Homo sapiens: one gene and its partners. The protein of the gene in region 2 purifies or fractionates together with the protein of the main gene of each other region. This does not show direct contact. Each region holds a gene or a part of one and is shown on either strand. Other genes may lie near its edges. The genes, in order: TRMT2B, VWC2L and XPNPEP1.

Region 1 (3,653 bases), on a different chromosome or scaffold from region 2:
GCAGGCAGATCACCTGAGGTCAGGAGTTCGAGACCAGCCTGAGCAACATAGTGAAATCTTGTCTCTACTAAAAATACAAAACAAACAAACAAACAAACAAACAAAAAAAATTAGCTAGGCATGGTGGTGGGCACCTGTAATCCCAGCTACTCAGGAGGCTAAGGCAGGAGAATCACTTGAACCCAGTAGGTAGAGGTTGCAGTGAGCCTAGATAACACCACTGCATTCCAGCCTAGGTGACAGAGTGAGACTCCATCTCAAAAAATAATAATATTAATAATATAACAAAAATTTTAAAAATTAAGAAAATAAAAATAAAAAAAACAGGCCAGGCGCAGTGGCTCACACCTGTAATCCCAGCACTTTGGGAAGCTGAGGGGGCAGATCACTTGAGGTCAGCAGTTCGAGACCAGGCTGGCCAACATGGTGAAACCCCGCCTCTACTAAAAATACAAAAATTAGCCGGGCATGGTGGCATGTACCTGTAGTCCCAGCTACTCGGGAGGCTGAGGCATGAGAATCGCTTCAACCCGGGAGGTGGAGGTTGCAATGAGCTGAGATCACACCACTGCACTCCAGCCTGGGCGATATAGTGAGACTCAGTCTCAAAAAAAAAAAAAAAAAAAATCAATCAATCAATCAAAACAAAATTTTCTTTAAAGTACCTTGAGTAAAGGCAAGAGCAAAAGGCCAATGACTGTATCAGGGAGAAAGGTAATATTTGGAGAGCAAGAAGAGATGCTGGTGTCTCAGAAGGAGAGTCAAGAGAGCCTGGAGGCCTGGAGGCCAAGGCATATACCTCTGAGGAAGATAGTATCACATCCATTAGGTCTGGGACAAAAGAAAGAAGGGAAAGGAGGCAATGGGAAGTGGCAGGCAGTGGGGACATATGAAGGCTTTGAGATTTTAGGAGTACAGATCCTAGTCAGACAGCCAGACCTGTCCTGGGTGGTCCACTGGCCCCACCACTCACTACCTAGGTGGCCGTTGCCAAGTTAATCATTCTCTCTGACATTCCTTTTTTTCACTTGTAAAATGGAGACAATGGTATCTACCTTATATAGTGGTTGTAAGAGTTGAAGATAATTAATAAAAAGTACCTAGGCTGCTGGTCACAGTGGCTCACACCTATAATCTCAGCACTTTGGGAGGCCGAGGCAGGCGGATCACCTGAGGTCAGGAGTTCAAGACCAACCTGACCAACATGGAGAAACCCTGTCTCTACTAAAAATACAAAATTAGCCAGATGTGGTGGCGCATGCCTGTAATCCCACCTACTCAGGAGGCTGAGGCAGGAGAATCGCTTGAACCCGGGAGGTGGAGGTTGCGGTGAGCCGAGATCACGCCATTGCACTCCAGCCTGGGCAACAAGAGCGAAACTCCGTCCCCCCAGCAAAAAAAAGTACTTAGGCCAGGTACAGTGTGGCTCACGCCTATAATCCCAGCACTTTGGGAGGCCAAGAGAAGAGGACTACTTGAGCCCAGGAGTTTGAGACCAGCCTGGACAACACAGTGAGACCCCGTCTCTACAAAAATTAAAATATTAGCCAGGCATGGTGGCATGCGCCTGTAGTCCCAGCTACTCGGGAGGCTGAGGTGGTAGCATCACTTGTGCCCAGGCAGCCATGATCATGCTCCAGCCTGGGTGACAAAGCAAGACCCTGTCTCGAAAAAAAAAAAAAAAAAGTACTTAGCAGAAGATTAGACAGGTATGTTTGTGAAACTCTGAGCAGAGTCCAACACCTGGCAAAATATCTTCAGTAAGCATTACTAGTAACTGTCATGACGTGTTTAAAGACAGTATTTAACTGAGTAGAGGTGGCAACACTGAAAGAGGGGAGTGGGAGAAGGAACAATGGGAGTAACTATGAGACAAAAGCTGGAAGAGCTAACATGGGTGACATTGAGAACACAAGTAGAGGGCCTCCCTTTGCAACACAGGACTCTATGTTATGTCTACATTGCTGTGAAAGCACCTGGTTTTTGTTTGTTTTAAAAATGAGATGGGGTTGGCCGGGCATGGTGGCTCACACCTGTAATCCCAGCACTTTGGGAGGCCAAGGTAGGCGGATCACCTGAGGTCAGGAGTTCGAGACCAGCCTAGCCAACATGGTGAAACCCCGTCTCTACTAAAAATACTAAAATTAGCCGGGCATGGTGGCAGGCACCTGTAATCCCACTACTCGGGAGGCTGAGGCAAGAGAACTGCTTGAACCTGGGAGGCAGAGATTGCAGTAGGCCAAGATTGCAACAGAGCAGAACTGGGCGACAGAGCGAGACTCCATCTTAAAAAAAAAAAACAGAGATGGGGTCTCGCTATGTTTTCCAGGCTGGTCTCAAACTCCTGGACTCAACCAATCCTCCTGTCTCGGCCTCCCAAAGTGCTGGAATTATAGGCATGAGCCACCATGCCCAGCCATAAGCACCTATTTTAAGTACTTGGGACACTTGAATGGACTTGGCCTGACATTCTGTTAACCTGCTGTGAAATTTGTATTTTGCCCTTAAGCTCTACCTTGGATTTCATCCCAATGTTAAGTCATAGCCTAATTCAGAATTTTACATTTATACACATACACACACACACACACACACACACACACACACACACACAGAGAAAATTATTGCTAAATTAACATTCCATGATCAATAAGCAACATGGAGGATGACGACATAGGTGCTGCAATATTTAGCCCATACACCATTTTGTATGATTACAAAGTACTAAAGAAAGTGACTGTCATAGCATGTGACATTTGGGGGATTTCAAATTTTTTACAGAATATACACTTAAGCTGGCCCAGAGTTCAGGTGTTAATGATAGCACTCTCCACTCAACACCCACCCCCATCAAGAAGCAACAAGACAGTACAGTTAAGAACACAGGCTTTGAAGCCATGTTCTTTGTTACCAAAAAAAAAAAAACAGTCTTACTTTGTCGCCCAGGCTGGAGTGCAGTGGCACATTCTTGGCTCACCGCAACCTCCGCTGCCTGTGTCAAGCCATTCTCCTGCCTCAGCCTCCCGCGTAGCTGGGATTACAGGCACCCCCCATTGCACCCAACTAATTTTTGTATTTTTAGTAGAGACGGGGGTCTCATCATGTTGGCCACCCTGGTCTCGAACTCCTGACCTCAAGTGATCCACCTGCCTCAGCATCCCAAAGTGTTGGCATTACAGGCATGAGCCACCACATTCGGCTGGAGCCATGTTCTAATCCCAGCTCTACTTCTCACTAGCTATGCGGTTTTAGGTAAGATATTAATACTTAAGTGCTATGAATCTCAGTGTCACCATCTATACAAATAGGACTGAGAACACCTATCTTTCACAGTTTTGGTGAGAATTAAAAGCATTCAAATATATGACATGTTCAGGACTGTGCTTAAGACAGCCAGTGCTCAACATGTGTCACTGCTCTTTCTTAGGCTCTGATTCAAAGCATATCACTTGGTTTCTTCATGCCTCAACATCTCCAACCTGCAAAACTGACAAGATGTAACAATGCATGCAAGTGCTGTGAGGATGAGTACAGTTTGTGGGAAATTTAAAAAACAACATACACACACATAGACACATAAATTTTCTGACCCTCTACATGAGTGCCTGCTGGAGTGTAGTGAGGTTATGGCCTGTGCTGGACTACCTGTTAAT
Region 2 (3,653 bases):
AGATAGTTGCATGAACTTAGTCTATTTGAGGACTTAGTATCTTCAAATTGATCCCAAACAGTTTAAGAGCGTGGGCTTAAATGAATCTATCTTCACTTTATATATGTCAAATTATTCTTTTTAAATATTTATTTTCAGCCTACCCCTCTTGTATTCCCATGGAAGGAGCTGAGTATATTTAATATTAGGAGCACATCCAGAAGTCTTTGAAGAGGGGGATGGCTCTTCATATTCATGAAGCTTGCATACTTCTGTTGGTCATCCCTGGATTGGTCACCTCTGCTGCTATCAGTCATGAAGACTATCCTGCTGATGAAGGTGACCAGATCTCCAGTAATGACAATCTGATCTTTGATGACTATCGAGGGAAAGGGTGTGTCGATGACAGCGGCTTTGTATACAAGTTGGGAGAACGATTTTTCCCTGGGCATTCCAACTGTCCATGTGTCTGTGCTCTAGATGGACCTGTTTGCGACCAACCAGAATGCCCTAAAATTCACCCAAAGTGTACTAAAGTGGAACACAATGGATGCTGTCCTGAGTGCAAAGAAGTAAAAAACTTCTGTGAATATCACGGGAAAAATTACAAAATCTTGGAGGAATTTAAGGTATGCGTTACCCTCCATATTTATTGAAATATCAACTTTTCATACCACGTGCTTAGTACATTGCTACATTAAAGTCAGAGTTGGAAAAATGTACTTTAAAATTTCCCTTTAAATTATACAATTTGATTCTAATTACCATAAGTAGCACCATGGTCAACAAATGGCCAACTGGTTTGTTGATCATATTTGTTAAGTTGCACAATAACCTTTATTTTTTTTCCCAGAAGTATTTGGGGCATACCTAACACCTTTTATTTTTGCCCTTAAACATTTCTTCTCTGTTATTACAAAATATGTTTTCTGATGGGAACAATTTTGTGTATAGTGTATGTGTCTCCTAAATTAATTTTTTAATTGTGTCAGTTTTGTGTGTTGCTTATTAGCCTGTATTTGAAGTCATTTAACAATATAGTCTAGAATTATTTGTTTATTGTGTGGAAAAGCTACAGAGATATACTTCTTAGCTGTGGTCCTCATATTAAGAAAATGCATTGGGCCTACTTGTGGTCAAGCAAGATCCCCATTCTGTTCTCTGCTCGCTGGATTTTTTGCTTTCAGGATTCCACAGAGAACTGAATTTTTATCACAATCCATGTAAAGAGTAGTAAAAAAGACTGTAATTTTTTTCAGCCTACCTGGTATTTTTTAGTTTTTCTTTTACGCTTGCGTCATATTTTCAAAGTAGCTTAGAGTTCATTTTTATCCCTTATTGAACTTTCTTTTCCCCAATGGCTAGTTTTAATTGGGATATCCTACAAGCCTGATCTGAACCCTGAAGGTATGAATACATGAAAAATGTCCACCTTAAATGTAATGGCAGTTTGTGCCTGGAGTGTCTGTCATACTGATGGCTTTATATAAAATGTTCCCATTTCATCTAACCAAGTTCTGTGATGAGGTGCTCAGAACCTTAGAGGTAAAAGCAGATATAGCTAGTTTTCAGTGTGGGTGTTTATGTATGAGAGAAGACATTTCCATTATTAGCACTGACCCAACTTCTCTCACCACAAGGGTCAAATGGTGCCAGAAATCAGTATGTAGAAAAAAGGTCTCAACTGATCATCATTAGCATAATCTGTGTATTCATAGTTAATTGTATTTAGTTCATTATTAACCTGGAATGAACCAGGTTAGCGGTTCAAGCCAGTTCTGATTTACCCAAGAATACCCAGTCATTGGAACTAGATTCCTTAGGACAAAAGGGAAATTTTAATTGTGACATTCAACTTCCTTAGACATGTTATTCTCGACTTTTGTCTTTCGTGTATTATTTTATTGCACAAAATTAAGAAGTAAAAGCATGAGAGTCTAGTAAAAGTATCATTGTTGACACCAAATAATAGTTGAGAGTAGAGTACATTTATTAATGGTTTTATGATCTCTAAAATATTGTATATATTTTGACATTACCTATTTTTAATGTCATCTTAATGGAAGTAAGTAGAAGTACTCAACACACTTGATTCTAGCAGTCATATCACCCTTTTCTAACCTGCATTTATATCTAGACTAGAATACAAAAGGGTATTGTAGGAACAGCGTTTCATAACTAGCACAAATAAAAACATAAGTTTCTGAGATTTATATAATTTGGTAATCTGTATTTAATAAAGAAAATATTGTCTAACTTAACTCACTATTGAAAATGCTATAGTTTTCCCTCTATTTATTAGATTTTACTACAAAGATAATAACTATGTTACCATGTCAAACAATATAGAGGTATTTAAAGAAAAAGTTAATAATTTCTGTACCCCTTCTCGTTATAACCCTACTATAATCTAATTAATCCCTACTACTTCTTTCCTAATGTATGATCCATTAATATGCACAGCTTTTTCACCTGGCTTTTTGTGTCATAAAATTTTTGATGTGATTTTTAAAATAATAGATATCACTTTTTTTAACAAGAATTTAGAGTCATAAAGAGTTTTAGAGACTATATAGGGCAAATGTGTCAGAATGAGAAACTGAGACCAAAAAAGTATAAATTACTTATCCAAAATTGTCAAGTTATTTATCTTAATTCTAAATGCTGCCATTCTAACATACTATATGATCTCTCAAAGCAGTTTGTCACTAAGGTCAGATAGACTTGGATTCGAATCCCAAATTCATCACTTGGATATAAATTTTTGAATGGAGTTCTTAAACTTTTTGATCCATAGTGGTATTGACCATAAAATAGCCATTGTAATAATCACTTTCCTTAGGAGGAGAGGTTGGAAATTCTTAATAACATATAATTTCTCTGAAGTCACTAACCTTGTGATGACGGGTACACAATAGGTATTAAATAAATGATTGTCCCCTCCTTCTTAACTCTAATATCCAGGGATTTACTCTAAATTCTAAATTCCTCTATGGCTTTGCCTACATTTTATAATGAAAGTTCAACTTTAAAAGACTTTCAAATGAAGAATTCTCATACCTTTTTAAAATGCTCTACTTATCCCTATGAACCATACAACTCTAAGTAAATATTAGCCATAATCTGTCATCTTGATTCTCTTCCAACTCAGCTTGCAAGGAACAAGTCATTAATTATTAAAGATGCATAAAACTTTCATATAATAATGTTGATATGTCAATTAGGGAGGTTGTATTATGAGATAATCTTCACATAAATATATTCATCCAACAAGCATTTATCAGACCGTTCAGTAGATAAGATACTGTAGACGTACTTACAATTGAAAGTAGGATATCTAGAAACCAAAATCTCTGCTCACAAGAAAGACATGATCGATGTGAAGAGAGAAGGGGGAAAAAGCAGGTAAAAGTTAAGTATATGATTATGAAATCCCAATATAACTCCCAAGAGATTGTGATGGCAGAAGCTTATCAAAATAGTATGAGGCTTGGTTAAGCAAGAGATTTGTCTTCAGGATGCTAACCCTATACATCTTGTAGAGCTGCCTGTTCTTCAAGAAGTACTTGAAATTGATCTGGGAAGACTGAAATTCCAAAGACGAAACTGCCAGAGCAAAATCAGAGATTGGGATGAATACAGTCTGCAAAGAGGAGGGAGATGGGTATAATTGG
Region 3 (3,653 bases), on a different chromosome or scaffold from region 2:
TTCGGAAAGATCTCTTTGCTGCCAAGACTTGTGCTTAGCCCTCTATTCAGAGGCTGGTTATGGGGCAGCGGCCTTCTCTTGGCCACCCTGCCCTTGCAGATGAGGGGCGGGCACTGGGAGCATGTTATCACCTTACCTGGTATGTGATATGTGGGAGTCTCCCAGTTCCCAGACTTCACCAAATCACTGCCCAAATTCTCATCAAGTGACCAGTAGTGGGGAAGTGACTGAACGCTGAGGAGACAATCTTTGTGGTGACGCCATGTGTGTACGTGGCAGTGATCCCCAAGATATTTTTACAAGGGGTCAAGTGAAAAATCATACTTTTTTCCCTTCTGTCTCACCCTTGTCTTATGTTTTTCATACACAAAAACTTACACTTCTCCCTCTCTGTAGCCTTCCAGGATTAAGGGAGGTTCAGATTTTCTAAGTCCTGTCAATCCACTTTAAAGAAGCTGCTTAATAAAGACCCTGCTATCATGATGTTAGAGAATTGTATCTTTCTGGTGGGATAATGAGCGTGGGCCCACTGGGAATTGTTTCTTATCATTTCTTCCCCCTGTAGGTCTGAAGGACACACCAACTCAGGAAGACTGGCTGGTGAGTGTGCTTCCTGAAGGATCCAGGGTTGGTGTGGACCCCTTGATCATTCCTACAGGTAAGTGAGCTTGGTCCCTTTCTGCTTGGGTAAGGAAGTGGCTTCTAGATTCCCCTCCATTCTCCTCATTTGCTTGTGGGGTGTGGAGCACTGGGGGGCTCAGCATGACTGATTTTATAGTAGAGGTCAGGGTGAAGAGAAGAGTTCCACTGGTGGTGAAGATGTGCTTTTACAGTTCCTCATCCTGCACACCCAGCTCTGGGCCATGGCAGGACCACCTTTCTGAAGGTTCTGGACTTTCAAGGCCCTGCTCCCTGCCCTGCTGCAATGGGCGTTCGGCTCATGGCTGGGCCACAATGTGTCTCCTCAGATTATTGGAAGAAAATGGCCAAAGTTCTGAGAAGTGCCGGCCATCACCTCATTCCTGTCAAGGAGAACCTCGTTGACAAAATCTGGACAGACCGTCCTGAGCGCCCTTGCAAGCCTCTCCTCACACTGGGCCTGGATTACACAGGTCAGAATCAATGGTTCTGCCCAGCAGGGCCCCTGCCATTGTCCCCCCACCTCTTGCTATTGTCTCCAGCCTCGTCCTCCGAATCCAAGTCGAGTTGGAGCTGACAGGAGGATTTTGCCCTACTCTGCCCCAGTGGGATATTTGAAGAAGCAGGAGCTTTGTTTGTTTCCACTGTTGCCACCTACTTGCCACTTAGTTTGGCTTTGGTTATTTTCGCAAAGCTCGTTTGGGTGGCTTTTTGGGTGCTGCTGAAAAGACTGAGTTTTTTTTATCCACTCAGCTGCTAACTGCCACTCGAACGTATTTGATATTGGAAATAGAGCATAGAGGTTTCTAGGTTCCATTTCCCTTCTTATGTCAGCATTTGTAGATTTACCTTCCTAGGCCTTTGTCCTCCATCTTGTACCTTCTGCTTTAGAGGCTTTGGGGTGTGGGTGTGTTTCCTTGGCCTGTGCGATAGTGATGGGTAAGCAGCATGTTCTCTGAACCATTGTGTGGATTTATGAAGCAGTGAGGGGGCAGAGAGAGAGGCCTGGAGGTGGGGCTGCAGGGGAGGGCGTCTTGCTGTAGAAACAGAGGTAGATGGGGGATGGCTGTGGAATGTAGGCAGATTGCCCAGAGGGGTCCTGGGAAGAAAGCGTGACAGCCTAGATTCTGGGCCAAGTTTTAAACAGCATTCCCGAACTGATCTTCAGTGCAGCCCTGGGTGTGGGGGCAGCCCCAGCCTGCTTTCTTGTGTGACATCCTCACCAGAGGGGTATTGCGGAATGGGGAGGATGGGTCCAGTGAGTGGCCCAGGGTCAGCTAAATATTTTCCATCAGCGTGGTTTGAAGTTTTTTTCACTAGAGCAGAAGCTCTGACTTGTTGCTTATAGGAGAGGGGAGAGCAAATGTTGCTGTTCAGTACACATTTGGGTGCCTACTATCTGCAGGATGCTGTGCGAGGTGCTGAGTGAATAAGACAGATGCCCACCCTGCTCACAGGTGGCTGTTCCCTGAGTTATGAATGCTGCCCTGGTAGGGTGGTTGTGGTGGCAATGGGGTGAGCTCCTCTAGCACCACGATTTCATCTTGCAGAGCAACAGAGAGGCCTTGGCAGTGTCTGAAAGGGCAAGTGTGATTTGGAAGTGGTAATCACAGTGAGTCAGACTACAGGGAATTCCTAGGTCTTAGCACTGAAAGGCAAGTCTTGCAGCCCCCAGGAACATCAAGTGGTGGGTGCTGTTCCCCTGACCCCTGAGACTGGGTGAGTTCCCTTTGCTGGGTAGTGTGTTGATATAGGTCCCTGTGTGTCCCCTGTTGCATCAGTATTTACAGTAGTGTGTTAATTGCTGGTTTAATTATCTGTCTTCCCTTCTATATTGTAAGCCCCATGAAGACAGGGACTGGGTCTGGCTCAGATCTGTAACCACAGTGACCAGCAGAGTGCCTGGCACGTATCTATGCCTGGCAGATCTAGATGTTACACAGGCATTTGTGGGATGCGTAAATGAATGAATTTTACTGGTGAGGCAATCAAGGCTCACGACAGTCAAGTGGCTTGGACACTTCTTGTATAGGGCTTGAATCCAGGCCTCCTGCCTGTTTAAGTAGCGTGCTCCTGTAAGAAATGGTGCTGATTAAAGATGTTTAGGGTAGGTTCTTTCACTGGGTTCCTACTGCTTTCTGGGACCAGGGCTGGAGTTAAAGCACATTTGTTTCTTGCAGGCATCTCCTGGAAGGACAAGGTTGCAGACCTTCGGTTGAAAATGGCTGAGAGGAACGTCATGTGGTTTGTGGTCACTGCCTTGGATGAGATTGCGTGTGAGTGCTCTGGTTTCGCTGTTTGGGCATGTTACCCGATCTCTCCTTTGGGTCTCTGGGTATCTGTGTGTTCATGCCATTCAACTTTCTGAGTGGCCAGGGAATAAGAAGAAGACTACGTCACCAAATGGGTATAGGAGATGCCAACTAGGATGAAGGAGAAAGAATTACAGGGAGCTGGGGAGGGGAGTGAGGCTTGTCCAGAGCAGTATTACAGCTGGGTGATGCCCACCTCTGGCCAGTCCCTCAGGACCATGGCACCTCTGAGGAAGGGCATTTCCTACAAATATTTTATGTCTGTCAGCCTCTGTAGGTGTAGAAGTGGGCTCATAGGAGAGGCCTTCTTTCTTTACACTTGTCCTGTGGTTTCCTAAGGTCTTTATAGTGAGAATGTTCTGGGAGCATTTCTACCTCAGAAAACTAGGAACTAAAAGTTCCTCCCCAAGCCCTTTGATGTAATAGTAGTTTCTCAGTCTTTGGACCTTAACCCACCTTCATGCAGTTGTTCAGCACCTTCTTTCATCTAAAACCTGACGGAATCTGGTTGAACCTTCCTGTCCTGTCTTCTGGTTTCTGAGTGGATTTGACCCAGGGCAACTGAGAAGAGGCACTGCTTTATCTTTTTGCCTTCTCACTAGAGAATGAGACCCTACTGCAGTGTCCTCTCTCTTCAGTCCCTGCATCTTCCATCCACAAAACATTGTCAAGTGTGTCAGTGACTTACATCCCTAATTAACT

The links.
Region 1: the proteins of VWC2L (region 2) and TRMT2B purify together in Homo sapiens (affinity purification with mass spectrometry; one large-scale study listed by BioGRID and IntAct). This does not show direct contact.
Region 3: the proteins of VWC2L (region 2) and XPNPEP1 purify together in Homo sapiens (affinity purification with mass spectrometry; one large-scale study listed by BioGRID and IntAct). This does not show direct contact.

Annotation. Positions count from the first base shown.
Region 1 is NC_000023.11:101,045,539-101,049,191, forward strand, and holds part of TRMT2B (tRNA (uracil-5-)-methyltransferase homolog B), read right to left. Parts: intron 1-3,653. UniProt on the Homo sapiens protein: Mitochondrial S-adenosyl-L-methionine-dependent methyltransferase that catalyzes the formation of 5-methyl-uridine in tRNAs and 12S rRNA. Catalyzes the methylation of uridine at position 54 (m5U54) in all tRNAs.
Region 2 is NC_000002.12:214,413,976-214,417,628, forward strand, and holds part of VWC2L (von Willebrand factor C domain-containing protein 2-like isoform 1 precursor), read left to right. Parts: intron 1-138; 5' UTR 139-218; coding exon 219-608; intron 609-3,653.
Region 3 is NC_000010.11:109,885,508-109,889,160, reverse strand, and holds part of XPNPEP1 (xaa-Pro aminopeptidase 1), read left to right. Parts: intron 1-565; coding exon 566-658; intron 659-968; coding exon 969-1,112; intron 1,113-2,819; coding exon 2,820-2,915; intron 2,916-3,653. UniProt on the Homo sapiens protein: Metalloaminopeptidase that catalyzes the removal of a penultimate prolyl residue from the N-termini of peptides, such as Arg-Pro-Pro. Contributes to the degradation of bradykinin.